5 separate regions of the Homo sapiens genome follow, and all the other regions are linked to region 1. Evidence: fine-mapped QTL for protein levels in blood plasma. A gene starts in region 1. Each other region holds a variant in brackets. All regions are shown on one strand. Distances are between the middles of the regions.

Region 1 (6,145 bases):
CAGTGGCTGGGAAGTGAGGTTTTCTGCTCTGCTGGGGCCTTGGTCTGTCCTCACCCCTCAGGCACTGGTGAGGCGGAGATGTGATGGGGGGCAGAGCTCTGGCTTTGGAGGCCACCCCGACCTAGGGGAGCCCCATCTCCTCAGTGCTGTGTGTCCTGCAGCAAGTAACTTAACTCCTCTGAGCTTTGTGCCCTGGGCTGCCAAGCGGGGATAATAACAAGGTTGCGGCCAGGATTTGGTTAAAGAATGTGCATTTTAAATCTCTTATTGTAATTTATGGCATTTAGAAAGAGCTTAATAAACAGCGGGCACTTTCAATAACTAATGACAATCAATATTTCTAAGAAACTTGGGGAATTGGGGCTGACAAAGCATTTTCCCTCCCAGACCTTGGGAATGTGGTTGTAGAATTACTGGGCTGGAAGGGGCTTTCTAGGTCCTCTGGAGAGGGGCAGTGTGGGGTCCAAGGACACAGAGCCAGGTGTGGCACAGCTGCAGCCAAACCAAAGTTGTTTACTTCTTTGAAAAAATATTTTTCATTTTGTTCATTACAAAATCTACACGCCCTGCTAAGGGCGCTCTTAGAGACCATGGAACGGAGCAGTGCTCTCACCGGAGACATGGCACTGCCATTTTTGGGGTATTTCCTTTCTGTGTTTCCAGTCCTCCTTCCACTAGAGCAGGCTGTAATTTACTATTTATGTTTCCTTCATAAATATGTTATCAGCCAGGGGCACCAGGCCGTCCTTAGGAGCAGTCTCTTGCTGAGCGTCACAGAACCACCTGCTCCTGAATCAGTGAGGGAAACACCTTACCACCGTTCAAACCCTTGTCCCTATCAACTGATTCCGACTCTCTTGGAGGAGAGCCAGAAATCTGCCTTTTTAACAAACCCCCCAAGTCCGTGTGGCAGCCACCGTATTAGAGGGTCTTAGAGTGCCTCCCTGGTAAGCCCGTAAGAAGATAAAGTCAACAGTATTTTCTTCCTTCTCAGTGACAGATTCCAGACCCACCTATGAAGCTCCAATGGGCAAATCCTGGGCTTTCGAGGCAGACAGACCTGGTGACATCCCTCCCCTATCCCTCCATGACCCTGGGCAATGCCTCAGCTGCCCTGAGCCTCCATGTCCTTGCCTGAGGATAAAACAGATCTGTTGGGCATCTTCACAGGAAGATGTGCATAAAAGGTTTTGCCTGGGACACCCGAGTGTCAGTGAGTGGGGTTGTTACCAGCTTTTAGGGACCAGAAAACCCAGGTCTGTCTCACCTGGACATGTGTCCGCAGCCTGGGCAGGCAGGTTCTTGATATGCAGGAACAAGACTAGCAGGACAGCGAGCCCCCGGGCCATGGTGGCTCCACTCAGCTCCATGCTCTCTGGCCTTTGACTCTGAAGAGTCCCCCAGCTCTAACAGGGCAGAGGAAACCAGCTCTCGCCTTGTGCCACAGTTTCTCAACTCCCTGGGGGACACCCACTTCCTATGGGCTGCTTAGTTGCACCAACAGGAGGTATGAGGTCATCTCAAAGGATGTTTCCTTCCACTAGGCTCCAGCAAGATGCCCACCCCATTGGGCTCTCTTCCCCCAGCAAAGACACCCTGCTCCCAGTCCAGAGAGCTCCTGAGACTCCTCTGCTGGAAAGCATCGGCTTTGCTTGTGGCTTAAGGAGAACACAGCCCCCACACCCCCTTTCCATTCCCCAGCTGTCCCCAAGCAATACTCGGAAACCTTGACCTTAACCTTGGGGGATAAGGAAGGTTTTGCTGAAGACGCTTCCTTGCCTCATCTGTTCCCAGAAAATTCAGGGTTTGTCCGTCATCAGGCACTTATCATGGATGGAGAGGAAAAAAATGTTGAGCACTTGTTATGTCCCAAATACTATTTCCATCATATCATCTTGCACCAGCCCCATTCGGTGGAGTAAATTATTTGAAAGTTACAGCTGGAGAAATTGAAGTCACTCCACTAGTAAGAGCCAGGCATTGGACTCAATTCTGTCTAACGCCTTGTAGATCACTGGGATTGCTCATTTCACCTGAAGGTGGGGATGCCTCTTGTTCCCCCAAATCCCTGAGGCCATGTTCCTACTCCGCATCTCGTGCTGTGAATCATGCTTAGCCAGGCCACGCTGTGGACACTTTGTGCGGGATTTTTAGAACGTATAGAAATAGTCACTAACGAGAGTCAGATGGTAGCAGGACTAAGGAGCAGGGAGAGGTGTTGTTTTGTGGTTTGCAACTTCTCTGAGCCAGCGTGTGTAGACTGGGTTTCCAAACTCAAGGGCTCCCCAGGTGGGAGAGAAGTGGAGGGGCGGCCCAGGGGTGGGGGATCCAGGAGACACAGGACCTTGTGTCCAGGCTCTCTGGGCACCACAACGACTCTCGACTGTGTGTGTTTGTGTGTGTTGGCTCCAGCCTGTTGAGAGACAACGGCAGGAGGCTTCATTGCCTCAGACACCGCTTAGTGTCCCTGAGCTACTGGCCCAGGCGGGAGAGGTCTGGGTGTCAGTGGTGCGGCCTCCTTTCTTGGAGAGGATCCAATTCAGGAGCAGCACTCACCTGGGATTGGGTCAGAACAGGGAGAAAGCCAGCAGGTCTGTGCCCCTCAATTCCATTTGCCAGCTGCCCCCTGGGTGTGAGGGGACCTCCTCTTCCTTGCAACATCAATAGGTTTATTTCAGGTGAGAAGTCAACACCACCTTCAGATATCAAGTCAATGTTCCCAAGAGTATGAAAGAATGCAAGATTCTGGCAAGTTAAAATATCTTAACATTGGATCAACAAAAGTCATTTGATTCCTGGCAATGGCAGTTTAGGTATTTGGGGGCATCCTATTAAGGACAAACAGACAAAACCTTTAAAAAGAGATTTGCTCGAAGGCACCGTCAAGCTAGCTATGTAGTAAAGGATTACTTTGCCAAGCTCTCAGGAGCCACAGAAATCTTAGAGAAGTGAAACTAGTAGTGGGGACCTCTTTTTGCACAGGGATTTGCCAATCTCCAAAAGAGAGGTGAGAAGTTGGGCAGTGATTTCACCATCTTGCAGAGCTGAAGGTCAAAGACTGGGGCCTACGGCCTGCCAAAGGTATGGGTTTGGGGTTGGCTTTCAGAAGGGCTGCACCCTAGCAATAGGATGAGTGAGCAACAACCAACATTCACAAGGGCTGCAAACTGGTTTTGAGACATCTAAGTGTCCCAGGAAAGGAATCTCAACTCCTGGAATTATTGCTCATGCCCCCAGGCTCCTTGCTGAAAGAAACAAAAATCTTCTCTGAAGGAGAATGACATCATCCCAGGTCATTATTTCTGCAAAGTGTTTTATTTTTTTCAAATGAAATGTTAAAACACAATCAACGATAACCAGGCTCATGGGAATAAAAGACAATGTGTATAAGGACCAACAGAAACAACAGAATATAGAAAGAGGTCTTTGGAAGCTGTGGATACAGAAGTTACAACATAATTAACAGGAAAAATGGAAAACCATCCTCAGAGACTGAGAACAAATAAGGATGCTTGTCATCACCACTGTGGTCAACATTGTATTGCATGTCACTGTCCAGTGCAGTAGGCAAGAGAACAAAACCATAAAAAGATTGGAAAGGCAGACACAAAGTTGTTATTTTCAGAAGACATGATTGAGGATGTAGAAAATTCTAGAGTTTCTACAGATAAACTAGCAGAATAAAAAGTTTAGCAAAAATCAATTGTGCTTCTAAAAACTAGCCTCAAAGAATTTAAAAATGAAATTTAAAAAATTTGCATCAGCAACACCAAATTCAAATAACTGTGAATAAGTCTAACAACATCCATGCTGGTCTTCTGTGTACAAAACTATCAAATAGGAACAGAAAGACCTAAAAGAAGATTAAAATAATTAGAAGGATATTCTATATGTGTGGATTAGAATACCAAATATAGGAAAAACATTCATCTTCTCTTAATTTATCTAAATATCCACTGTATTATCAATTAAACTACCATTTTCTGTGACAATTGACATGGTGAATTTAAAATTTATATAAAGGGCCGGGTGCAGTGGCTCACACCTGTAATCCCATCACTTTAGGAGGCTGAGACAGGTAGATTACTTGAGGTCAGGAATTCAAGACCAGCCTGGCCAACATGGTAAAACCCTGTCTCTACTAAAAATACAAAAATTAGCTAGGCATGATGGTGGGCACCTGTAAACCCAGCTACTTAGGAGGCTGAGACAGGAGAATTGCTTGAACCCAGGAGGCGGAGGTTGCAGTGAGCCAAGATCGAGCCACTGTACTCCAGCCTGGACGACAGAGTGAGATTCCATCTCAAAAAATATATAATATATATATTTAGCAGGGTGTGGTGGTACATGCCTGTAGTCCCAGCTACTCAGGAGGCTGAGGTGGGAGAATTGCTTGAACCCGGGAGGTGGAGGTTGCAGTGAGCCGAGATTGCACCACTGCACTCCAGCCTGGGCAACAGAGTGAAACTCTGTCTAAATAAATAAACAAATAAATAAATAAATAAATAAAATTTATATAAAGGCAAGAGGCTGATAGCCATGCTATTCTTGAGCAAGAAAAAACAAGGGTGAGTTGCTTGAAGTGACACCAGCAGTCATTATCAAGCGATAGTGATGGAGACAGTGTGGGGCTGGCTTAGGCGTACACAGCAAACCTAGGGAAGTGAGTAGGGAGTGCAGAAGCAAATCCAGGCACATACGGACCCTAGATTTATGACATGGTGGCTCTAAAGAGCAATAGTGAAAGAATAAACTTTCAATGAGTGGCACAAACTACTGGAGAGTCATATGGAAAAACAAGAAGTTACACTTGACTTTTATCAGATGAAAAAAAAATCCACATCAGGAGAAGGGTAGACCCAAATGTGAGAGGGAAAACAGCAGTTTTAGATCATATTATAAGATCTCCAATAGCCTTGCAGTTATTTTAAATAAGATGGAAAACCACAAACCATAAAGGACAAGTGGAAAAATTGATCATGAAAATAGTATTATTTCTTTTTCAAAATACACCACCGTGGGAGGGAAAAGACGAGCCAGGGTGAGGGAAGAGAGGTTTCAACACACAGAAGTGACAAAAGGCTTGTATCCAGAATAAAGGGTTTCTGTAAATCAACGATGTTGTAGAAAGTGGGAAAGTGACTTCAACAAACGCTTATAAAAGATAATATTTAATAGATGATGGAAGTATGAAAACATGCTCAACTTCATAACTAATCCAAGAAATGAAAACTTAAATCTCATGAGATGACTGCAGACACTAAAATTTTTCTAAACAGCCAACTCTGCAAGGTTTTGGTGAAGAAGTGTCAGAAACCTTGGTACAAGCACTTCGGAAAACTGGCAGTATTCCCAACAATTCCCTACGACCAGCATATTCCATAACCAGCGATGTTCAGCTCAGTTCTACTCAACAGAGAGGTGTGCCCAGCTGGAAAGAAGACACGTGTGAAAATGTCCAGCCCCACGCCGGAAACAACCCAAACGTCCATCCGCAGCAGAATGGGGCCGTCAGCTGAGGTTCGTTCATACTGGAGCATCCTGTAGACCCATAAAATGATCGGATTCCAGCTTCACGCAAAAGCTTTGTTGAAATCCGCAAGCACACGGAGCATCCAGGGCGCCAGCACTAAGGCATGCGAACTGTTCATTTGCATCTGTACAGAGTTTGAAAGTGGGCAAAACTGAACAGCAGTGTGAAGGAATGCATGCTCGGTGGCAACGTGGAGAAAAAGGCCCAGACCATGCCAGTGAGATGACCGCTCCCTTAGCAGGGGCCAGTGAGACGACCGCTCCCTTAGGAGGGGGAGCCCTTAGGCCTGGAAGGGGCACGGGGGGCTGGAGATGGGTTTTGGCTTCATTGGGTGATGCAGGTTTAGTTTATGCACTCTGGTGAATGGGTGTTAAATTTCACTTAAAAGAGCAAGCTTAAATAAACTATTTAAGTAAAATAAATAGAACACATAAGGGTCACCATCGTCCTGTATTGCTCCCACCACAAGCTATAGCCCAGCTGTCTCTGGGAGGTTTGGGGATGTTGAATGCCTGCTGGTTCACTTCCCTGTTGCAGCTCAGGCTTCTGGGAGGTTGAGCAACCCCTAGCCTGGCTGTTGCTTCACGTGCTGGGTCTGCAGCCTGAGATGAG
Region 2 (6,145 bases), 38 kb after region 1:
GCAAAGCCCTCCTCCGTTCTCAGCAGACCCGTGAACAGCCATGAACCCCAGTGTCCTTTGCTTTCTCTTGTTCCTTCATGCTCGCCTTCCACCCTCCTCTGTGCTGACCCCTCCAGGCTGCAAATAAAACCCACCAGCTGCTTCCTATGCTACTGTCAATGCATCAGCTAAAGTTGGAATCTCAGCACCAAACCCGAGCCCTTTGTGCCTAAGGCCCCGTGGCACAATAACCTCCAACACAGTCGTTAGGGTGAGACCTTAGGAGTGAACAACCCCTATGCAAATGCCCAAAAATGTATTCAGATGTCACCTATGTTTGTACCTGTAGCTGTCACAAATCGTTTAGAAGTGTGCCATTGGGTGGACGGCTGGATGGATGAAGATAGGGGACGATTTCTGATTTAACAACCACCAAGTGTCAGGAGAGAGAAACACAGTCTGCGAGTAGCACTGACTCTGGCAGAGATTTTATAACAATTCATGCAAAGATTATTTATTCAATAAATATTTATTGAGCTCCTATTATGCACTTGGCACTGGGGAAAAACAATGAAGAAGACATAGAAATCCTGTCCTCTGGCACCTAAGCCTGGTGGGTTCAGGGAGATGCATTTGGTTGCCCTGCCAGGGCCTGGGCTTGAGGAGGCCAAGCCATCTCTCCTAGTCATCTGAGCCAGAACTTGGCAAACTTCTCCCCAGCTGAGTGAGTGTGTCCAGAAGACTTGCATTACCAGGGACCCCACCATGCAGCCATGGCTTAGAGTGCCCTGGAGTCTGAGTTCAGGTCCCGCAGTTCAGAGCAGAGGGAAGGCAGCTGGCAGAGTAAGGAAGTAAGGAGAATCCATGCTCACCCTTGTCTCCCACTATGTGACCTTGGGCCTGGGGCTGGCATGGCAGGTGCTACAGCCAGACAATAGAGGCTCCAAACCCAAGTTTCTGTCACTGTGGGAGCTACCATGTCAGAGGAAGGTGATGATTAATGCACAAATATGTATTTTCTCCATCAGTCTGGTCTTTAACCAGTCTCTAGATTCATAATACCCTATCCAGGACAGGGTTTTCAGATGGAGCATCAATAATGCAGGTGCACACACAAATTATGAATGAGTTTGATCCTGGAGCAGTGATAAGTGAGACTTTCTTGGAAGGCAGGGCTCAGCTGACAGCTGTGGGCCCTGCAGTGACTCCTATCTACACTCTGGAGGGCTCCGGAAACCTCTAGCTCTGCGCCCCCTCCTCTGATGCAGTCCACATTGCAGAATGGCAGGCTCTCCTGTCCCTCTGGCTCAGCTTGTCCCAGCTTGGCCAGTCAGCCAGGGGCTACCGGGTGCTTCTGTGCCATGGTAGCATCTCTCCTCCCCTTGGCCTTTGCTGTGGAAGGAGCTACCTGGAGGAGATTGTGGCCTGGGCCAGGGACATCTGTGCCATCACCCTGGCAGGAGGTGAGGAGGCAGTAAAAGGGCAGCCCAGACTGGCAAGAGAGGGGCTGCCCACTTCGGGGGCATCACACCTACAGGAGGCATGTCCTCCAGCACGTGGTCTTCACGCTGCCCCCCGACTTGGACCTCCTTTTAAACTGTACCACACTGGGAAGTCCTTCACCACGGTGGGGCTCACCCTCACCACTGGTCCATGGCAAGGTGGAATAATACTTCCTGAGCTCCTTTTCCCCTCCAACAACTTCAGAGAATGAACAAGAAAGAGTCTAGAAGATGCAGCTGGAGGTGCCATTTTTCCTGGCATGGTGTTAAAAATTTTAAATGGGGCTGCAGTAGCCTTTCCATCTGTGTGTGTCTCTAGCTGTGTGTTTATCTGTTCACGTGTGTTGTGTGTATGTGTGTGTCTCTGTGCACGTGTGTCTCTGGGTTTCTAGGTATGTATGTCCATGTGTATTCACGTGTGTGCATGTGTTTCTGTGTATTTGTGTGCATATGTATGTGTCGATGTGTGTGTGTATGTGTGTGTCTCTGTGCACGTGTGTCTCTGGGTTTCTAGGTATGTATGTCCATGTGTATTCATGTGTGTGCATGTGTTTCTGTGTATTTGTGTGCATATGTATGTGTCGATGTGTGTGTGTATGTGTGTGTCTATGTCCCTGTGTGTGTCTGTGTCTATTTCTGTGTATGTGTCTGTGTGTGTATCTGTGTCTGCATCTCTTTGTGTGTGTGTATCTCTCTGTATGTGTCTGTGTATATCTGTGTGTGTATCTCTGTGTGTATTTCGGTGTCCGTGTGCATGTGTGTCTGTGTGTGTTTCTGTGTGTGTCTGCATGTGTATCTCTGTTTGTATGTGTATTTCTGCGTGTCTGTGTGTATCTCTGTGTGTATTTGTGTGTATTTCTGTGTGTCTGTGTGCATGTGTGTCTGTGTGTCTTTCTGTGTGTGTCTGTGTCATGTTTGTGTGCATTTGTGTCTGTGTGTATTTCTGTGTGTGTTTGTGTCTGTGTGAATGTGTGTCTGTGTGCATTTGTGTCTGTGTGCATTTGTGTCTGTGTGTATTTCTGTGTGTCTGTGTGCATTTATGTCTGCGTGTATTACTGTGTGTGTCTGTGTCTATGTCATGTTTGTGTGCATTTGTGTCTGTATTTCTCTGTGTGTTTGTGTCTGTGTCATGTGTGTCTGTGTGCATTTGTGTCTGTGTGTATTTCTGTGTGTGTCTGTGTGTGTTTGTGCATGTGCACACATGGGTGCTCCAGCCACCGAGCCCAGCCCTCGGGGCACAGAACCCTCTGGGCACAGGGGCTTGGTCTCTGCTTC[C/T]GAAACGGCACCGCCAATGTCTGTGAGTTTCGTGGGTGTCCCTGTGTGATCCCCTCACTGGAAAGTCTGGCTGGCTACAGACATTGCTGCTATTCTCCTGGCAACTGCTGCAAACCACAAAGAGCTTCTTTCTTATCCTTTGGGAGCAGGGGAACAAGGCTTCACTATAAGGGGATTAGGTTTGTATTAGGCTTTGATCAGAGAGGCAGAACCACCAGGAAATGTGGCTGAGGGATTTATTGTAGGATTTGCCCATGTTTGATAAGTCAAAGAAGGCTCTTGCTTCTGTGCCTGGTGTGGCAGCCTAGGGTCAGAAGAGCAGGTGGTGGGGCAGGAGAGCTGCATGTCAGGTTGGGCAGCAGGAGCGCCCTGGAAACTGCCGGGTCGGATGTCCTCTGCAAGGCAGTCTCCCTGTTGCTGTCCCCAGCTTTAATTCTGGGATCCCACAGGAGAAGATGGGGCCCTTCATCAGGTGCTAAATGTCACACCTGTCCTGGGAGTTAAAGAACTCATGGAAGACTATGGCAGGAACAGGGCTGCTGTGGGTCCCCTGCTGCACACTGGCAAGGTGCCTGCCCACAGGTGACAGCATGCAGGGCTGCAACAGCTCCAACCTTCTGGGCACAAAAAGAACATGGCCACTGCTTCCCGCCTTCCCAATTCTGCACCATGCCTCTTGGGGCCAAACTGACCAGGGGCTATGTAGGAAAGGGCATTCTGGGCAGTACAGTTCTGCTTGGGTGGGCTGATGCAATAGAAACCCACCACGGTCTGCCCCTTGTCAACCTGGCACCATATATGACTCACTTAGACACACTTAATGCCTGAATAAAGACAACAGCAAAATCCTTGCTTATGCCTAGCATGAAGCATGATCCTCTGAACAACTGAAAACACACTCTGCCCAGAAGAGGATACAAAACCCCTTCCTCCACCCCTGGGTGACATCTCTTCCTCCTACAGCTAAGTCTCACACCCTTTCTGATATCCTGTGGCCTAAACGCCAAGTATATTTGTTATCTATTGCTCTATAAAAAATCACCCCAAAATCCAGAGGCCTAAAACAATAAATGTGCATGATCTCACCTCTTCTGTGGACAAGAGTCTGGGCATCGCTAAACTGGCTGCCTGTGGCTCACAGTTCCTCGCTAGGCCTCAGTGAAGCTTCCAGCCAAGGCAGTGATCTCATCTGAAGACTGGACTGGGATGGTATCATCTTCCACGCTTGCGTGCATGGCTGTTGGTTTGTGTCAGCAGCTTTCTGCCATGCAGGCCACTCTGTGGGGCTACTCATGATGTGGCAGCCTGCTTCTTTCAGAAAAAGAGCTGCAAAAGAGAGAGAAAGCAAGATACTGCATGCAAGATGGAAGTCATGGTCTTTTTGTGACTTAACCTCTAATCTTGGAAGTGATAACCCTTCGCTTTTGTTGTATTCTGTCCATTCTTTGGATTGAGGTACTATGTCCAGCCCACATTCCAGGGGAGGGGATTACACAGGGCCATAGATACAGAGAGGAGGGGTCATGGGCCCATCTTAGAGGCCGCCCAGCCTGCTGAGAGAGAAGGTCACTACTATCAATGCAACGTATGTTGGATGCAGAGAAATGGAAGAGGGAGGAGAAGTGTGGTTCACATCTACTGACAGATTCACAGCTAAATACGGAATAAGAACTTGTGACTGTTACACCTCATGTCTCTACCTGGTCATGCGGCCATAGCTGTCCCATAACTACCCTCCCTCGTGACTGTCCATAGTCCCTGTGCCCTAGCAAGGCCCTCGGAGGGTCGTGCTTCCTTGTTTGGTGGGGTGACCCAAATCTTCATTCCCAAAGGATCTGAACGTCTGAAACCTGCTACCATTTTGGGTCATTGTTGACCATTTCAATGTGGTTCATAATCATCCTGGAGAGAAGGCAGGTGCCTCGGGGCCCAGGTAGTGGGACTTCAGGAGCCTGTGTGCTGCCCTGGGGCCTCTGGGTAGAGTGTGGCCTGGCCTCAGGTGCCCTGGGGGGTCTTGGAGTTGGGTCAGTAGAGGGTCTGAGTCACAGCCACCCCGTCCTTCTGGCCCATCCTCCCAAGACCATCTCTGGAAGGTTTTCCCCTGGTGGGTGTCAGATGGGACATCCCTGAGGAAGACCTGGCTCCAGGTGGAGGCGCCCCACGCCACCTTGGTTGTGGCGGCTGCCAGTCCTGGCCACAGCCCCAACCCCTATGAGGCACCAGCATCCTCTTTGGTATCCACAGAGGTGGCAGGAATCTGTCCATCCACACCTTCATCCACTCATTAAGCAAATGCGCGCTGGGGCTGACTTCTCAAACTGTGAAAAAGCCACGTGGGGCTCTGCCGTGGTGGGGCTGCCACCCCAGGGGACAGGACAACCCACCCTTGAACACATACTATGTGGGTCCATTTCAAATTGCAACCAAGGCCCTGGACAAAACAAAGCGAGGTGGCTCCAGAGCATCACTGCCAGGAGGGGCCTCCTTCGATGGGGGCAGCAAGGTGCTCTCCAAGGACCCATGGATGGGCCTGAAGGAAGAGGTCTCAGGAATAAGCAAGCCACAGACACACCCTGCAGGCAGGAGGAGGACGGCATGAAGGCTGCAGGTGCAGGGCTCTGTGCTCAGCTGGATGGGGCTGAGGGAGGAGACCCATTCAGATGCTGGGGCCTGCTGGGTCGAAGGCCAGTCAGCTCCTCTTGCTCTCAGCCAGGCCAACCCTTGAGGGTCTCAGACTTCACTGTTCACCACTCCGCTACACACAGGTAGCCTGTGAAAGTCACTTCTCTAGATCCCCAGGGACGTACATCCCGCAACGCTAGCTTGGGCGGGACCTGAGTGCCAGCTGGGTGGCCAGAGGTGGGCGAATTTAAGGCAGATGGCAAAGCCATTCCCACCCCAGGGCCACTGGTCGGCACAGCTGGGCACAGCCCACCACCTGCCAGACCTTTCAGAGGGAATGCATCTCCCTCCAAGCCAGGTCCCAGCTGGGATCTTCCAGCTGAAGAGGTTTCCTTGGGCAGAAGCGAGAAGCGAATTGGAAGAAAGAGGCCCTGACCCTCCAGGAGGCTCCATTCTGCCTGTGGCCCTGAAAAAAGAGAGCAGGAAGGAGCAACTCTCACTTCTTCACAGCGACTTTGAGAAGTGGAAGACAGGGGCCGCTCCCCGGCTACAAACAAGAAGCCGATGGAAACCAACACCGTCCCCTCCAGCCTCATCTCCTCGCTCTTCAGAGTTTGCAGGGAGATGCATCACGAAGGCCCATGAAGCTGTAAAGATTAGTATTCCAACCCGGGCAGCAGGGTTTTAATTAGTCATTAGGCCCTTTCTGCAGAGCCATGCTGAACAGGCAAGGGCAGGGTGACCTTTCTCCGCCCAGCACTGTGGCA
Region 3 (6,145 bases), 120 kb after region 1:
AATATACTCCTTCCTCCTGTTTCCACCCCCATAGTGGCCGAGAGTGAGGCTGTGTCCCATGGACTCACTGAATCTCAGCACATACTAGGTGGCCACCCTCATTATCCCCATTTGCAGATTGAGAAAACCAAGGCCCAGGAGGGAGGGAGCTTTCCACTGTCACCCAGAGAAGTACCTGACCCCACCCACCACACCATCCCCTGCCTCTCCTCTTTGCTGACACCCCCAGCCACCCTGTCCCCTGCCTGTCCTCTCCGCTGACCCCACCCGCCACTTCGTCCCCTTCTCCACTGACCCCACCCACTACCCCATCCCCCTCTCCGCTGACCCCACCCGCCACCCCATCCCCTGCCTCTCCCCTCCACTGACCCCACCCACCACCCCATTGCCCTTTCCGCTGACCCCACCCGCCACCCTGTCCCCTGCCTCTCCCCTCTGCTGACCCCACCCACCACCCCGTCCCCCTCTCCGCTGATCCCAGCCGCCACTCCGTCCCCTGCCTCTCCTCTCCACTGATCCCACCCGCCACCCCATCCCCTGCCTCTCCTCTCCGCTGACCCCACCCACCACCCGATCGCCCTCTCCACTGATCCCACCCGCCACCCCATCACTCTCTCCACTGATCCCACCCACCACCCCGTCCCCTGCCTCTCCTCTCCGCTGCACCTGAATTTCCACACTGCATGTCTCGTGGAAGATCCCTGGGGCACAAGCCCCGTGTCCTCTTCTGGCAAGAACCACTCAGAATCTCAAAAGACGGTCGCTTACTGAGCACCTGCCCTCCCTTGGGCTCTATGTTGGCTTTTTGTAAAATTGTGATAAAATGCACATGACATAAATCTACCATCTTCGCCATTTTAAGTGTACAGCTCCGTGGCACCAAACACACTCACATCGCTGTGCAGCCATCACCACCACCCACCTCCAGAACGTCTTCATCTTTCCGAACCAACACTCTGTCCCATCAAACACAAGACCCCATTCCCCTCTCCCCAGCCCCTGGCACCCACTTCTCTACTTTCTGTGTCTGTGAATCTGCCTACTCTGGGCACCTCGCAGAATGGGAGTCGCGCAGTATTTGTCCTTTTGTGTCTGGATTGGTTTACCATGGTGTCTTCACAGTCTGTTCGCGTCGAAGTGTATGCATCAGAATTCCCTTCCCTTCCAAGGCCCACGGTCCATTGTAGGGATGGACCACATTCTGTTTATCCGTCGCGCACTGATGGACGCTGGGGTTGCTTCTACCTTTGGCTGCTGTGGGTCCTGCTGCTAGAAATGTGCATGTACAAATATCTCTTTGGGACCCGCTTTCAATCCTCTCTGGTATACGCTCAAAAGCAGGATTACCAGCCGGGTGTGGTGGCTCACGCCTGTCATCCTGCTTTCAATCATCTTGGGTATACGCTCAAAAGCAGGATTGCCAGCCAGGTGCGGTGACTCACGCCTGTCATCCCAGCACTTTGGAGGCTGAGGCAGGCAGATCACCTGAGGTCAGGAGTTCGAGACCAGCCTGGCCAACATGACAAAACCCCGTCTCTACTAAAAATACAAAGAGTAGCCAGGCATGGTGGCGGGTGCCTGTAATCCTAGCTACTTGGGAGGCTGAGGCAGGAGAATTGTCTGAACCCAGGAGGTGGAGGTGGCAGTGAGCTGAGATTGCACCATTGTACTCCAGCCTGGGCGACAAGAGTGAAACTCCATCTCAAAAAAAAAAAAAAGCAGAATTGCCAAATCACATGGCAACTATTTTTAATTATTTGAGCAGCTGCCATCTTATACTCCCATCAGCAGTGCCCAAAGGTTCCAGTTTCTTCGCATCTTTGCCAACATTTATTTTCCGCTTTATCTTTTCCTTTGGCTATCCTAATATCTCTGTCTGCATTTTGTACATTATCTTATTGACTCTTTTATTCCCTAAAATGGGAAAATAATAACTTTTTATTTTGCTATTAACCCCATTTAAAGATGAAAACCATCAGGACAGAGGGGCTGAGTGTTCTGTCCCACACAGGAGTGGCCGGTATGCCCCAAGCCAGTTCCCTCAGCCACTCCAGGGCTCAGCTTCTGGCCAAGTGAAGATCCTTCATTTCTTGCAAAAGAGGCCCTCAGTGCTGTCTTGTCAGATGAGAACACCCATGAATAAATGAGTGAGTGAGTGAACACCTGCGTGTATATAGGACTAGCTGGAGGTCACTGTGGAAAGTGGCTGGTGGCTCCTCCAGGTGGGCCCAGGCCATATGATGTGACCGCCATGGGGCCTGGGCAGCATGGTCCAGGGAGGATACTTCAGGAAGGAGCCCTGGGAAGGGAGGTGCAAGGGAAGCAGGAGCTCCACGTTGCAGAAAAGATGAGCAAACTCACCTTAGGGCTTTGAGCAACCTAAGCCAGACAATGACAAGGACACCAGGGCCAGAGGCCAGGGAAGCAAACACCAGGGGCAGGGGGCAGGAGAGTCAGCAGA[G/A]TGGGATCCACCGTTTGGGCCTCCCGAGAGGCCCTGGGCTAACTTTCTAGGACAAAGGAAGAGAAGACTCTTTGATAAAAGGGAAAGTAAAAGGCAGCTCTTGGATCAATAAATGAATTAGTTGACCTTGATTTGCAAACCAGTTTGCTTCCATCTGCCTGGAGTATATTAACCTGCTACCCTGCAGTACCTGGGATTAATCAGCCTTAGTACCCCACCTGCCCTGCTCCAGGCAGGTTTATGTGTAGGTGGAGGAAGATACCATTGTGAGGGAAGACAGGGATGCTACCTGTCTCTAGAGCAGGTCATACCGCAACGCCACATACGCTTGTCCCCATTCTCTTTGTGTGGGGTGGGCAACTTCCAGAAACGAGCATTCGGGGCCCGCACCCCAGGTGGCCAAAACCTCTGCTGAAACACACCCAGCGTGAGTGTCTGGAGGAGGGTGGGACAAGGAAACCTGCTGTGGCTAAGAGCTTGGCACAGCTGTCTCATGTACTACGCATCGCTGAGACATCTGTCCAACTGACCTTCATAGGAAAAGATGGTGCAAGAAGGACCAGAAGAATCTCAAAGCTGATTCCCAATGTGGGAGCTGACCTCCTTGTGTCTGCACAATGAGGAGGCAAGGATTGCAGGGCTGGAGATGCACACACAGACACGTGCGCACAGGCACACACATGCACGTGCACACTCATGCAGTGCAGGCATGTGCACACACACACAGGTGTGCATGCACACACATATACACGTGTGTGCACACAGTACACTTGGATCCCTTTGCTGCATGCCTAGAGTGCCCAGGCTCCTTATGTACCCCCACACCTTTCTGGGGATGACCAGTCTGACGTTGGCAGCCCTGATGGTTGGCTGCAGCCTCACACAAAGGAACCCCCATCATGTCTGGATTGATCCTAGTATGAATCCTCAGGGCTGAGCGGTGCTGCGCCCCCATCTAGGGAAGGTCTCTGACTCTGGGGGCGGGGCAGGCTGCTGAGGAGGGGATTCTAGTTGGGAGTGGAGAAGAAGTCTGGTGGTCTGGGAGCAGGGCCAGCTCTCAGGATTCCGAGATGCTCATCTAAATTCAGACCACAGGTCCATTAACACAAACCTCACGGGTTCCATCATACCCCAGGCTATACTACATAGATGGCACCAGCCTGCAGCCAGCAGGCACAGAAGGCAGAGGGGATAGACGGGCAGGGTGGTCAGAAGAGCCCCACCCACACAGAGAGCCACATGGCCAGTGCTTGGACCACTGTGGATAATGCTTATTGAGAACCGACTCTGTACCAGGCACTGCTCCAGGCGCACCTAGATCCAGGACTTCCCGGCCTACAGACTGTAAGAAAGCAATGTCTGCCGTTTCAGCTGCCCAGTCTGGTATCTGTTTTGGCTGCCCTAGGAGGCCAGGACAACAGCCTCCCCCAGTTCTCTTTCTTGACGTTTGTTGTTGTTGAAGGAATGGAGTCATCTGCCCTTCGCGCGTCCTGCAGTCTGGAGCTGGCTGGCTGCACCCGTGCTGTCATCTGAACGTCTCTCTGTCCCCTGGATCTCCTGTCTGAATGTCTCTCTGTCCCCTGGACCTCCTGTAAGGTGCTTAGACCTAGAGGCATGATGAGAGCGGGGCGTGATTTTTAGGCAGGAGCCCTTCATGGGTGGAGTGGGCGCTTCCCACTGTACTGCCTCGGGAGGTGCATGTGACATCCTGTTGCCTTTCTGTATGGGGGGAGATGGCATCACCCTCGCTCAGTCGTTATAAAACCCCAGCAGCCTTCCTCCTGGAGCTCTCAGTGGTTTGCAAAGGAGGGCGGCTGTCATGGTTCCACTCTGAGCTTCTGAGCTGGAGGACTTGTGTAAAGAAGCTTCCCCCGAAGGCTCGGTCCCTGTGGGGAAGGAGAGGGGTGCTTGGCTTTTCCTCGCATTTATCAGTTTCCGGAAGGATGAGTTGGTGCCCCCGCGCCCACCCCAGGGGACCAGTGTGGCTTTCTTTAGCTTAGTGATGAGCTCATGAATTTTCAGCACATTTGATGTGTTTCAATCTATTACAGTTGTTATTTTTATGCCCAAATTGTCACATCATTGACTAGTGGGAGCATCTTCAAGCTGTGTCCTTTTGAAAATGTTGTTTTTTAAAAAAATCTTTATTACTCCCTTATGAAGCAATTTTCAGTTCCTACAAACTGAAGTCAGACTCCGACGCGGACCCACAGGTCGTGATCCCCATATTCCTCTACATCTAATCCATCTCTCTGATCTAATCCACGGACACTGTGTCCCTCCGATGTTTCTGGCTCCGATCCTTCTCACACGGCCTTTGCAGGGGCACCGGCTTCACCACGTTCTCAGGGGCTGGGCTGGGAGGATCCCACCCAGGCTCTCTCCAGAAACAGCTCAGTGAACTCGTGGCTGCAACCCCTGGGAAGTACACAAGTAGGGAAACAGGACATGCACGTGGCCCTCAGCTGGGCCCATCTTCGTTCCTAGCAAAGCCTGGCAGGTAGAGTGAAGTCAGGTCTTAGTGGCTTTTCTTTTTCTTTATGTAGCAATTCTTATCCCAGGACTCCATTATCAGAAAAAGAAATGCATCATTTTCTCAATGTTATAAACACCCACTATTCCCAGGAGAGCTCCGGGGAGAACCATCACAGTTTCCAGCCTCTGCTCTTTGTATTGGATGGAGATCACCCAGGGCTCCTTGAGGACAGCATGGATAGATTGTCATGTTTGGGGCTTTCTTGGGACAGAGTTTTCTGTGGTTTGTTTGGCCCTGCCAAGCCTCAGATTGAAATCTGACCCTCAGTGTTGGAGGTGGGGCCTGGTGGGAGGTGCTTGGGTCCTGGGTGCGGGGAGTCCCTCGTGAATGGCTTGGTGTTGCCCTCCAGGTAATGGGTGAGTTCTTGCTCTAGGAATTCCCAGGAGAACTGACAGTTTAAAAGAGCCTGACACCTCCCTTCCCTCTCTCTTGCTCCCTCCCCTGCCATGCAACACGCTTGCTCCCCTTCCCCTCTCACCATGAGTGGAGGCTTCCTGGGGCCTCTACCCAAAGCAGATGCTGGTACCATGCTTCTTGTACAGCCTGCAGAACTGTGAGTCCAGTAAACCTCTTTTCTTTGATGAATTACCCAGCCTCACTATTCCTTGGTAGCAGCACAAACGGACTAAGGTAGGTCTTCAGAGGCCCCACATTTTCACTCTGCTCTGGGGCCCCCTGGGCAAAAGAGCAGACACTTATGCTCCAGGTGGATGCATGCACGAGTGTACCCAGCTGGGAGCTACCAGGGATACTGACCAGGCCACTGTCCAAGAACATCCTCCCTTCTGTGATTCCCAAAGTGGCAGCCAGAGGTGAGGCGCAGGGAGTGCAGGGTGCACCCTGCAGAAATGCAGTCCCCAGGACACGCTCACACCCGATGCCTGCAGGCTGTGGGGCAACACGGAAAGGCCGCTGGCCACGGCTGGGCCCAGACCTGCAGCCTCCAGTGGTGCATGCTCAGCTCAGCACAGGCTTCATCTCTGATGCGAGCCACCAGCCACCGAGGCCCCGCTGAGCAGCTCCTCTGAGAGATGCCGAGACACTGGGGAGGAGTGAGAAGCTCCTCAAGGTTCCCTCTCTGCAAACGCCAGGTGCAGGGTGAGCAGAAACTGCCTTTGCAGAGTGCCAGGCAGGGCCCGTCTGATGAG
Region 4 (6,145 bases), 46 kb after region 1:
CCGCGCCCGGCCGCTCCTTAACATTGTTGAGCTCCCCTTTCCTCCTCTGCGTAATTAGTAAGATCTCTTCCACCTGCCTCATGGGCTGACTGAGGGAACAACCCAGACAGGGATGATCATGACGGTGCTGTTGGCTGACTGTGGGGCTCGACACTGTGCTCATCACTTTATGCATCTGAGATGGAAATGGTCTCAGCCACAGGCACAGATGGGGAACCCAAGGCAAAGAGAGGTTAAGTAACTTACCCTTGGTCATGCAGACAGTGGCTGAGCCCGAATTCAGCCCCAGTGTCTTTAACTCCAGGTGTGAGGGCAGCGGCTCCAGCACGCGAGGCCCCAGGAGCCAGGCACTGCTCACAGCACCAGGCGTGACCGCAGCGGCTCCAGCACGCGGGGCCCCGGGAGCCAGGCACTGCTCGCAGCGCGGGTCGCTCACGTGTTCTTTGGAGGCAAATCCATGCGGCGTTCACACACACGGACCTTGCAGTTGCTTGCGCCTTTTTTTCTCTCCAACTCATCACAGGGCATGACTTCTCTCCAAGCTGCCTGAAATAAAATGAATAACTTTTTATGTGAAGTTCTTCGTGCTGAAGAGAACTTGTTCCAAATGGGGAATAATTGGCCTTCCAGGGCTCCATACCGGCAATGAAGTGAAAGATGCTGACGTTTCAGAGGTGTGGAAATAAAAGGACTAAAAATGGGATTCGGAGCAGCTAATGAGGGCAGATCCGCAGGGTTTGAGAGACAAAATGGGGATCGCAGGTGGAAGCTGGCACCGCGGCCAGGGGCAGCCCACGCAGCAGCGAGTGGGGCCGAGGTCGTGGGCGGGTGTCCGGACCCTCATCACAGGAACTTGCTGGAACCCCCAGAGGCCCCGGCCTCTGCTGGCTTTGAGGCCTCAGACCTCCCTAGTCCAGTCACGAGCCACCGAGCCCCCTATACGAGTCTGCTCAGCGGCTGTATGAAGCATGTTATGTTTGACGAAGGATTAAACACCAGAAATGTATTGTCCCCGGTTCTGGAGGCTGGAAGTCTGAGATCAAGGGGCTGGCAGGGCTGGTTCCTTCTGAGACCCCTCTCCCTGGCCTGTGGGTGCCATCTTCTCTCTCTGTGGGTGTCCATGTCTTTACCACCCCTTCTCCTAAGGACACCAGTCCTATTGGATTAAGGTCCACCCTAATGGCCCCATTTTAACTTAGTTACCTCTCTGAAAATCCTACCTCCAAATACGATCACAGACTCCAAGCTGCTGGGGTGAGGACTTCAACATGTGAATTTGGGGCGAGGGGCAGCTTGGTTCAGCTCCTAACATGCATGTCAGCCACGCTCTCACTCACTCATCCTTGTTTTGATTCGTTTACATGGTGCATGTCTCCGGTGCCTACTGTGTGCTAAGCTGGGCCAAGACAGAAGCTGCCTGCCAGGAGCCCAGTGCCCAGTGGAGGAGGAGGGATGGAGCAACAGGGCAGTAGGACGGGGTGTGGCTGTGCCCCAGATGGGGAGGAGTTAGCCCTGGCCCCATGTGCAGTGCAGCCTCCGGGTGCCCACCGCTCTGGGACTACAGAGTAGCTCCTTGGACAGTCATGTCTTCAGAACTGAGAGCTGAGATGACCCAGTTGGCCCATATTAGGCAGTTTCCAGTCCAGGAAAGGAGGGGGTGGCATCAAGACCTGAGCTCTGGGGAGCACATTTTGGGGTCCACATTCTTGCTTTGCTTGTGGAATGCCTGCAGGAGCTGGAGGCCACGCCACAGAGCCCTTGGGAGGAGAAACGGCCACGTGTGGAGGGCAGTCTGATGGCAGGTATCCACGCTGAAGATACATGTGTCCTTTGAACCAGCCCCCAGTTCCCTGGGAGAATGTCTCAGATCCCTAGGCAAAGGCACAAAGATCTGGTGTGTTTACTGCTGTAAGAGACAGCCCCAAACCTCGGCAGTTTCTCCCAACATAGAAACCCACAGAGCGATGCTGTGATCCAGGTCCTGCCTGCTCCATGGTACCACCCTTCTCTGGTTCAGCAGACAGAGAGGGAGAGAGCGTGAGGACCACACATGAGGGGTTTTATGGCTGACCAGAAGCAGAACACAGCACTTCCTCTCACCTCCCATTGACCAGACTCCAGTACACACAGGACCGCCTGAGAAACATGTGCACCGGGGGAAGAGAGCGTGGTTGGAACACCAGCCATCTCTCATGCAATATTTATCTAAATTCTAAAATAATTGAGCATTGAATCCAACTGGAACTCCCTGTAGGTGAGGGGTTAAAGACATTTAATGGTGTCACCGGGCATTTGTCCATTATTCACTTACTCAAGAAACATTTATTAGGGCATCATGTTATTTGAAATATAATGCCTAAAATATCAAAACTAATGACACATATCCACATTTCCAGATGCAAGACCTTCTCCTTGACATGTTTAAATGAAAAGATCAGGATTCAACATGGGTTGTATACTATCATCCAATTTATAAAAATTAAATATTTATATCTGCAGGCATAAGCCAGCATAGAGAAATATGGAAAGATTTTCACAGAAATTCTAAGATATGGCTACCATTTCTTTGGTAATCCTCACTTCAAGAGGTGGAGTTCAACTCATTTCCCCTTGAACGTGGGCTGGACCTGGTGTCCGGATGGGTTACAGTGTGGCCTCAGAGTTGGTCAAGCCTGGCATTGCAGCCTCTTCCTGCTTTCTCTC[G/T]TGCATCACTGGCTCTTGGGGAAGCCAGTTGTCACATTGCAGAGACCCAGGAACAGCCCTACCAGGGGCCCACATGGTGTGGACTGAAGCCCTCTGCCCATGGCCAAATGCACCAGCTTGGAAGCAGCTCCTCCCACCCCAGTTGAGCGTTCTGATGAATACTGCCCTGGCCAACAACTTGACTGCAACTTCATGAGAGACCCTGGGGCAGAAGCACCCCAATTCCTGACCCACAGACCCTGAGATAAGAGATGTTTCTTGTTGAAACTTCTATGTTTTGGGTTAATTTGCTGCATGGTAGCAGATGACAAACACACCATCTTTGTGAGGTGATGGGCGGTGACGCTGGCCAGCCACAGCCTTCCCCCATGCTTGCCCTCTGTGTCCACTCAGAGCAGAATCTGAGAAACCCCTGGATCTGGTGCTACCAGGCCTGCCTCCCTGTCGTGCCCAGCCCTTCAGCCATCCCTTTGCAAGGACACATGCCTTGGTGAGTCATTGTAACTATTGCCTCTCCAAGGCCCAAACCCACAGGGACAGGCATCTCCAGCATGGGGCACAGCAGAGCCCTTAGCAAATTCTCAGCAAATGCGCCAAGAAGGAAGGCCTGCAGGCTTCTCTTTACTGTGCAGCCTTCCACGATGAACACGCATGGCTTTTAAAACTGGGGAAATAAAGTTTCTAAAGTAATCGAGCTGATCCAAGGACTCTCACTGATAACTTGAAAGGCTCCACAATGAGCAGGAAGACTCATGGTGACCAGTTCCTGACGCAGCCTCTAGGGAGGTAGCTGAGATGCCAGGGTGGAGCCGCCCTTGCCTTTCTCGCCTCCTAACTGTCTGGACGCAGGGTTGTTTGCCTGGAGTCAAAGAGGGTAAAAATGGGTTTGTTGCTTGGTAAGAAGACCAGGTGCCAATGCACCGAGGGTGAGACAGCAAGCCTAACAGAGCCAGGTGGGCGTGTCCTCCCCTTCGCTGGAACTCCTGCCTGCTGATATCAAGGTCGTCCTGAAAAGGCCGCTAGGGAGTTGGTCTTGATGCGCCTGTGGGCCGAGCAGGTGTCTAATAGCCTGAGGCCGCTGCCTATTTAAGAACCACTTTTCCAAGCCCCCATTTCTCCCATGACAAAGGGAACTCACGGGTGATGCCTGAAGGCCCTGTGTGCCATGGTGGCCAGCACGGTCCAGTCTGTGACCTTGTTCTGGGGGATGGAGAGAGGAGGAGGAGGGGGATCCCAGCCACCTGGAGCCTGCAGCTCACCCATGCCTGCCCTGCATTTAGCAGCCACAGCCCTGGCGGGGGACAATGGCCTTGCCGGGATTGGTGGGCAGTGGCACCAGAAGTCTGGGCTGGTTGCTACCCTCTGGTGGCCCTGGGCCCTCCTTTCTTGAATGTTCGGGCCAGTTCCCTCCTCTGTGCTTCAAGGCTGCTGGTGGACTCTGGGCTCTGCAGATGCCACATGCAGTTCTGGTCTCGGGAACAGCTTTGCAGCTGGGCTTACCTGATGTGAAAGCAATAAATGAGTCCCCCAGTGCCTCCCAGCCCAGACTGGGGCAAGAGGGGTTGCCCAAGGGGTTTGCAACTCACGCTGAGAGCAGCCATCCTGAGAAAAGCCTCTAGCTATGCTGCCCAATTACGCAGCCTCCTTGGGGGCACTGGGCCATCCACATCCCTCAAGTCCCTCAACGGTGACCCAGGGACAAGCCCCATGCCCCCCTCAGAGCCGCTGCACGGATGAAAAGAGGGAGAATGTCCCACGGCAGCGCCCCGCGTGGGATCGCCGGACAGGGGTGCCTTCGCAGGCCGCTGTAGACATGCAGTTTCACATTCATGCTTCACAATTGATCTGTGGGCTTCGTGTGTCCTCAGCTTTAGGAGATACGTCCGGGTGCCCCTCAGCAGTGCCTGTGCCACTTGCCCCCCAAGGGGCAGTCGACCTTCCTGTGCACCCTCAGCTCGTCCTGGTGGAGAGAATAAGGCTCCCCGAGGTGACCCCCTATCTGCGCTATTACTGCTGCCTTCTCAGACCATGAGAAGGAACCCTGAGAAAGAACTTCTTCAGTTTAGAGGGAGTGCGTCTGCGTCTGCAGTAGGCAGTAGCAGCAGGCAGTGGCCTGGGCGTGGGCAGTTGCTGTCAGCTCAGAGCAGGAAACGGGCAGCTGAGGAGGCCAGGCTCCTCGGGCATCTGCGGCTGCGTCTGCCCGCGTGGACATGGGACTCTCTCACTGCAGCCCCAGAGCGCAGCCTCAGCAGAACCAGCCTGCTCACAGCAGCCTCCTGTCTGATTAATCAGGGGGAGGAAGGGCTGCCCATAAGCAGACTCATTTTATTCTAATGCTGCTTTCTCAAGATTTTAATTTTCCATAGTGCTACATTCTAGTCCCCTTTCCTTAAAAAAAAAAAAAAAGAAGAAGAAGAAGAAGAGATATAATTGGGACAATCCTCTATCATATACATGCTATCTTATTCCACCTCGAGGTCTGCTTCCAAAAAGCAATTGTGTGCTACTTAATGGACAAGCACTCAGTGACTATGGGGGTAGAACAGAGCTCAGATTTCAAGATTTCAGCAGGATGTGGGCGGCCTGACTGTTCCCGTGGCAGGAGGGACCATCCTCCATCCCAGCTCCGGAGCAGCTGCCTGGCCTTGCGCAGAGCCCTTGGGGCCCTGTCCTGAAGCTGCTTCCCTGGAATTAATTGCTGCAAATTCCGCCCACCCAATGGCGCTGAAAGTGGGCTGAGCACCTATTCTCTTTCACTTGTCAATTGCAGCAAATCCAACACAGGCTTCATGTAATGAAAGGAAATGAAGACGAGTCCAGGTGGGCTGCGGCCAGTGATGCCTCCAGCGAACCAGAGGGAACTCTGGTCCCTTGGGTGCAGTTTAAATGCTGCCACCCTAGGGACAACCAGGACCTGGAATGTGTCTGGCCAGGACAGTGCAGCATTTCCTGACCCTGTCTAGGAAGGTGGAGGGACCGGAGCATTTCAGCAGCCCATCTCTACGCCAGGAAGGGGACTGGGTGTCCAATGTCCAGGTCTCAGTGTCTCACTGACATCTCCCAGCATGGCTCAGAGAGGCGCAGTGAGCTGCTCAAGGTCACACAGCCGAGGAGCAGCAGAGGGGAAGTCCACCCTCTGTGTGAGTCTCCCGACCCGAGCTCACCCCACCACATCGCAAGGTTGCCAAGGCAGCTCCAGCACCAGAAGGCAAGTTGCTCGGTTCCAAAAACAGTCCCTGGGTCCGGCAGCATAGACTTTAGGCATATCCAGGAGCCAGGACAAAGACACTTCCTGAGGGCAGCCCTAGGGCCTCATCTCTGCAAGATCCAATCATCTGCAGGGGCCAGAAAGTTCTATCGAGGGAAAAGGCTCAGGTCCCATCTCCTTTGCTGACCGTCTGTGACCTCAGCTTGCCTGGCCAGACCCTGTTTCTGCACATGG
Region 5 (6,145 bases), 30 kb after region 1:
ACACACACACAGACCATTCACTTTAGACAGAGACCATTCACACCAGACACACACACATTCACACCAGACACACACAGACCATTCACACCAGACACACACACATTCACACCAGTAACACACACAGACACATTCACACCAGACACACACAAAGATACATTTACACCAGATACACACACAGACCATTCACTTCAGACAGACACAGATACATTCACCCCAGACACACACACAAAGACACATTCACACAGACACAGGCAAAGACACATTCACACCAGACACACACACAGACACAGGCACACCCCTGCACACAGCCACTGTGCTCATGCATAGCCGGGTACACCTGCTTGCACACTCACACTCGCTCACCCCCACACCCCCCCCCCCGCTTCCTCACCCACTTTCTCTCCTGGTCCTGCAGTGCTTGTTCCCACTAGGTCCCTGGGGGGCCAGGGAGAGCCAGCCAGGCCCGCCACCATTCTCTCCCCGCAGAGCGATGCTGCGTGTCCAGAGCAGCGGGTGTGGGAGGCAGAGCCTGGAGCTCCCAGAGCCGGCGGCCCACGGCCTCGCCTCCAGCCAGGAGGGTGCGGAATTCTCCCCCACCCAGCAGAGGCTCTGGCCATCTGTCTCCAAGGATGCGGGGGAGCGGACCGGCTGTGCCGCTCTAGGGCTGCTCCGCCTGACAGACAGCAGTGTCGACCACCCATGTTTGCTGCACAGACTCTAGCTTCCACACCCCTCCCCACCCCAGCAGCCTGGGGAAGGAAGGCTGGAGGTCCCTGCATGACGGGTGAGGAGAGAGGACAGGAGCCCGGTGCTCTGAACACCGCCCCAGCCCAGCTGCACGTCAGGACCCCGCACTGGCCTCTTACATTGAGAAGCCAAGACCCACCCAAAACCCAGCTATCAAAGTCTCTGGGGACAGCACCAGCAGGGCAGAGGGCGTTGGTTCCCTTAGAATGTGCTAGAAGGCTCATCCCTGCAGGAGGTGCCCCTGCAGGCATCCTTGCCCCCACACTGCCTGGTGCTGCCCACCTGCTCACTTGCAGGTGACCCTAGTTTCTCAGTGGCTCGGCAGCCTCGCGGGCTGTTGTAACACTGACACCACGTCTGTGAGATCATTGGCTTGGAAGATTCAGCTCAGAATTGGATAGAAGGGCCCTGCCCTGCCAGGCACAGCTGCCGGCCCTTGTCACCTGCAGCTGCATGAGAAACTAAGGCTCAAACCAAATCCTTCTGGACAGAAAAGCAGGTCCCCCTCCACTACCCCTTCGTCTGGGCTCTCGGTCAGCGGGGTCAGGGTGGCCGGGACAGTCACTCTCATTTCCAGAGGAGGCGAGAGGCAGATGAAGGCCATGGACAGCAAGCCATGGGGCCACAGCACAGCCTCAGGTCGTTGCTGACACACCTGCGCCTCCCACAGCCCTCCCCAGGAAAGCCGCGGCAGAGCTCACCCCACTCCCAGGGTGCTCACCTGGGACCTCCTCACCTCTGCACCTGCCCTGGGTATCCTCAGCCGTGACCCTGGCCTGGCAGTGCCGGCGGACAGGTTGCAACCAGCCCAGCTCCCCAGGGGTGAGAGGGGCCCATCACCGGCCACCCACAGGCATCCCTGGGTCTGCTTTTTGGAGCAGTGTCCGGGGTTCCCTTCATATCCTTTATATCTATGTGAACCTGACCGGCACACTCACTCCAGGCCCAGGTGTTCTGTAAACACTGAACACCATGCTGTTAACCAAGGTTACGTTAAAAAGTGACTATGTGGCCAGGAAATAGATTTTGTATAGTTATGTGCTGTTAGGATAGATACGGGTTTTCGTCTGCGGCTCCTGGCTTATAACTCCCATAGCACTTGTTCCCATTTGCGTTAGAATGTTGGGGGTGTTGAGCCTCATGGGCAGCCTCTGCCTTCTCCTGCCCTCCTTTCACCTGCCCCAAGGCGGCACCCTAACTTTCTCCTGCCTTTCGGATTGTGGGTCTTAAGACCCTCCCATGAGAGGGTCCCATCCTATGCCATGGGGGAAGGAATGCTGACATCATGAAGCTTCCATAAAATCCCAAGAGGACTCGGTTCAGTGCGGTTCCTGGAGTGTGGCGCGCCCAGCAAGGATGTGGGAGCTCTGCGTCCCTTCCTCCCACTTCGGTCTACGCATCTCTTCATCTGCAATATTCTTTTTCATTAATCTATAAATGTGTTTGCCTGAGCTCTGCGAGCTGCTCCAGCAAATTAATAGAATTGGAAAGAGGGGGTCATGGGAATGCCAACCTGAAGGCGGCCAGTCAGAAGTTCCAGGGGCCCAGACTTGCGGCTGGTGTGTGTAGGGGCAGCCTTGGCGGGGGAGCATCACAGAAGTCTTCTCCTGTGTTGATGATTATTGAGGTGTGAGAGTAGAGGAGAAACACAGTTCAGGTGAGAGGCTTCCCTGCACAAGTTACCAACCATATGACCTGGCACAACTTTCCCAACCTGTGCCCCTTCCTCGCCTACTGGGGGGTAATGAGATCAATGCCGTAGCCTGAGCAAGAGCCCAGAACGGGGCTGGGTGGGTGGGCAAACCTCGAGAAACGTGAGCTCGTATGTGAGGCATATGACAGGCCGAACAGTGTGCCATGTCCGTGGTGCCATGCCCCAGCGTGGCTTTGAGCGCAGTGACTCTCTTAGATTTCTGATTGTAAAGGCCCTGTGTGCTGGGTAAAGAGTTTGGAGAAATGCAGAAAATTTAAAGAACATGAAGAACTGCCCAGAAATAACAACTGTGAACGTTTTGGAGGCCTCTCGTCCTTTCCTGTGTACCTCGTGGCACAGCTACACTGTGCCCTGCCTGGGGTCCCAGAACATGACAGCATCCACTGCCACCCTGACTCATGCCTGTCCTCAGCTGGGCTCCTGCGCCAACCACAACCCCACTCCCCCCTGAATGACAGCCAGTCTGTCAGGATATTCCTCCTCCGCTCAGGGCAGCCCC[A/C]CTGCCGAGTCCCCAGCATGCATTGACTTGGGTACTCCCTACCTTGAGTCAACCATTAGGCCCATCACGCTGATGCAGAGCAGGGAGCCCCAAAGTGGGGCTGGGCCCCCAAGGATTCTTTACTTCACCCAGGAGAGACTTCAAGGGCAAGCCCCTGGTGGGGTGGGGCTTTATTGACGAGGCAGTGTTGCAGCTCCGTGACTGTCCCTACAGAGCAGGACTACCCCACAGGCAGTGCGCTGAGAGGAGCAGCTCAGAGCAGTTGTGCAGTCACATCTATATCTACTTTTAATTACAAGCAGATTAAGGGGTGGTTTATGCAGAAATTTCTAGATCCTGGGGTTATTGCCATGGAAAGAGGAGGTAACGCCCAGGTGTTGCCATGGCAGCGGTCAACTCACACTGGTGGGCGTGTCTTATGGAAAGGTGCTTCCACCCCATCCCTGTTATAGCTGGTCCTCAATTTGGTCCAGCATCTGAGCCCCGCCTCTGGAGTAGAGTGCCACCTCTCCACTGCAATGTGGGTGGGGACAGATCCCCTGGGGCACCTAGCTGAAAGTCACATCCTGCCGGAAGAGCTAAGACCACACCTGTCTGTCTGATTTCTGAAGCTGGGCTCTCATCCCTTGGATCTCTGGCTCCCTTCTTGTCCTAGAGGCGAAGGGGAAGAGCTAAATATTTCGTGACCTTTAGGCCATACTTGTAGAGGGGTGTGCAGGCGGGAGGAACTGAGGCCAGGTTCCGACTCTGGCTGGAGGCCTACCCAGGCCCCTGAGGTTTCTCCAGGGTCAACCCCATGGCCCACTGGCAGCTGAGTCACACAGAGTGATTGCTGGTCATGCCCTTGATTGAGAACGATGCACTCAGAGCGTCCTCCGCTCATAAATAGCAGGAAGCAAAGTACATTACGAGAGCATATGGTACCTCTAGGCCATTTCTGCCTCTGGCCCCGTCACTGCCACAGTGGCTGAAACTCATCTTCTGTTCTGACAGGTTTCCCTAGAAACCCATCAATTTATAGTGTCTATAGCTGGCCTTTTGGAGGCCCCAGACCAAACTGTGTTAGAAAACAACAGCAACAACAAAACTCCTATTTCTCCAAATGGCCCTGGAAGATGCACCGGCTGTGCCCTCAAGACGCTGTGTGTGGGGCATCCGCCTCCCTGGGCGCGTGGAGCTGGCTGATGGCCAGGGTGTAAGGGTGCATACTGGGCAAGGACGGGCTGAGGCAGTTGGCAAGGTCTGCATCACCTCCACCCATCCGTGGTCCCTGGTCATGAAGGATACGCCCATCCATCCACCTTTCTGAAACTGTTGTCAACGCACTCTGAATTCAGGAATGCTCTCCTCTCTCTTCCTTCTCCCCTTGGCAGACTCAGGGCGGAAATGGTAGCTGACGTTTTCCCCAAGAGCGAGGACAAGGAATGACCAAAAGATCATCATCCCAGGGGCTTTGGGAATGTGGGCCCTGCTGCATTTCCTTCAGCAGAAGGGTTTCTTTCCTTCAGTTTCCATCAGCTTTCAGGGAGGACAAAGGTCCCTTTTGCTAACTGATCTCTGTCTCACCCTCTGCAAACCCATCCTATAGGCTGCAGTCATGGCCCCACTTGGGAGTCCGCCTCCTTTCTCTCACTCCTGACTTCCCAAAACTCTGGCTGGTTGTGTGCTCCAGGGAACTTTCTAGGGTGATGGCAATATGCCATAATTTGGAGTTTTAGGGTGGTAGTTACGTGGGTGCCTACAATTGTTAAAATTTACTAAATTAAGATCTGTGCATCATATTGTGTTAAATTGTATCTCAAACAGAAAAGGACGAGAGTGCACCTTGTGGAGGGCAAATCTGTGCCGCACCCCCCAGCCCCGCCGGTGCTCTGGGGTTGGCCTCAGCTCATGCCCTGCAAGTCCTCGCCTGCAGACGCAGCTTGCTTTGCTCAGCACGCTCATGCGTGTATGCCACGGGTCAGTTGAGATCTGGACCATGGGTAGGTACAGAATCTTTCTTGGTTATTGTGATGGTTTTAACAGCTTTGTTGAGCTGTAATCTGCCTACTATCGAATTTCCCCATTTAAAATACACAACTCAATGCTTTTTAGTAACTGTCTCCACGAGCTGTGCAACCATCAGCACAGTCTAATGTGAGAACATTTTCATTGTCCCTTCCCAAAGAAGGCCTGTATTAATTAGCAGTCATTCCCCGATCCCTCACCTCCTCTAGGTCTTACCTGACCCCAGGCCAGCACCAATCTCCTGTCTGTCTCTATGAATTTGCTGATTCTGGACATTTTGTATAAATGGAATCAGACAACGGATGCTCTTAGTGACTGGCTTCTCCACTTGGCAGAATGTGTTCAAGCCTCTTCCATGTTGCAGCACACAATTGTACTTCATCCTTTTTTGTTGCTGCATAATACTCCATGGTTGCTGAATACTATTCCATGGTATTACTTGTCAGTTGGTAGACATTTGGGTTGTTTCTACTTTTTGGCTGTTAAGATCTAATGCTGCTATGAAATTCATGTACAAGTTTTTATGTGAACATGTTTCCAGTTTTTGTGAGCATATACCTAGGGGTGCAATTGCTGGGTCATATGGTAACTGAATAATTAATCTTTTGATGAACTGCCAGGCTGTTTTCAAATCAACTGCATGATTTTACATCCCACCAGCAGCATATGAAAGTTCCAATTTCTCTACATCCTTGCCAACACTTGTTATTATCTGTCTTCATGACTACAGCCATGCTAATGGATGTGAAGTGGTATCTTACTGTGATTTTGATTTGCATTTCCCTGATGGCTAATGCAGCTGAGCATCTTTTCATGTGCTTATTGGCCAGTTGTGTATCTTCTTTGGAGAAATGTCTATTCAAGTCTTTTGCCCCTTTTTAAAAAATTGAGTTCTCTGTCTTTTAATTATTGCATAGTGAGTTCCTTATTATTATTATTATTATTATTATTATTCTTTTATTTTATTTTTATGAGATGGAGTCTCACTCTGTCACCAGGCTGGAGTGCAATGGCTTGATCTTGGCTCACTGCAACCTCCACCTCCCAGGTTCAAGCAATTCTCCTGCCTCAGCCTCCCAAATAGCTGGGACTGCAGGTGCACACCACCATGCCCAGCTAATTTTTGTATTTTTAGTAGAGACAGGGTTTCACCATGTTGGCCAGAATGGTCTCAATCT

Direction of the effects. Alleles are on the strand shown, and positions count from the first base shown. The strength of an association depends on the size of the effect and on how common the allele is.
For the plasma level of the protein whose gene starts at base 1,411 in region 1, C is the high allele of the variant in region 2 and T is the other (weak association).
With allele A in place of G in region 3, the plasma level of the protein whose gene starts at base 1,411 in region 1 is lower (weak association).
With allele G in place of T in region 4, the plasma level of the protein whose gene starts at base 1,411 in region 1 is lower (strong association).
In carriers of allele C in region 5, the plasma level of the protein whose gene starts at base 1,411 in region 1 tends to be lower than with A alone (weak association).

Evidence for each region. PIP is the posterior inclusion probability: the model's chance that the variant is causal. The UK Biobank Pharma Proteomics Project read protein levels with antibody pairs (Olink). The fine-mapping took linkage between variants from a reference panel, not from the people measured, so its PIPs are less certain.
Region 2: its variant is fine-mapped to the plasma level of the FCN1 protein (UK Biobank, PIP above 0.99).
Region 3: its variant is fine-mapped to the plasma level of the FCN1 protein (UK Biobank, PIP above 0.99).
Region 4: its variant is fine-mapped to the plasma level of the FCN1 protein (UK Biobank, PIP 0.99).
Region 5: its variant is fine-mapped to the plasma level of the FCN1 protein (UK Biobank, PIP 0.95).

Annotation. Positions count from the first base shown.
Region 1 is chr9:134,916,502-134,922,646 of GRCh38, forward strand. It overlaps FCN1 (ficolin 1), which reads right to left and starts at 1,411. Exons shown (of 9, transcript NM_002003.5): 1 at 1,268-1,411. The coding sequence starts at 1,370.
Region 2 is chr9:134,954,629-134,960,773 of GRCh38, forward strand. No RefSeq gene overlaps it. Among named protein-coding and RNA genes, the nearest start is that of FCN1, 40 kb to the left of the region's middle. The variant C/T (reference allele first, on the strand shown) is at 2,757.
Region 3 is chr9:135,033,711-135,039,855 of GRCh38, forward strand. No RefSeq gene overlaps it. Among named protein-coding and RNA genes, the nearest start is that of OLFM1, 51 kb to the right of the region's middle. The variant G/A (reference allele first, on the strand shown) is at 2,462.
Region 4 is chr9:134,962,897-134,969,041 of GRCh38, forward strand. No RefSeq gene overlaps it. Among named protein-coding and RNA genes, the nearest start is that of FCN1, 48 kb to the left of the region's middle. The variant G/T (reference allele first, on the strand shown) is at 2,704.
Region 5 is chr9:134,946,830-134,952,974 of GRCh38, forward strand. LOC105376313 (a long non-coding RNA gene) reads left to right here. Exons shown (of 3, transcript XR_930421.3): 3 at 487-2,198. Among named protein-coding and RNA genes, the nearest start is that of FCN1, 32 kb to the left of the region's middle. The variant A/C (reference allele first, on the strand shown) is at 2,961.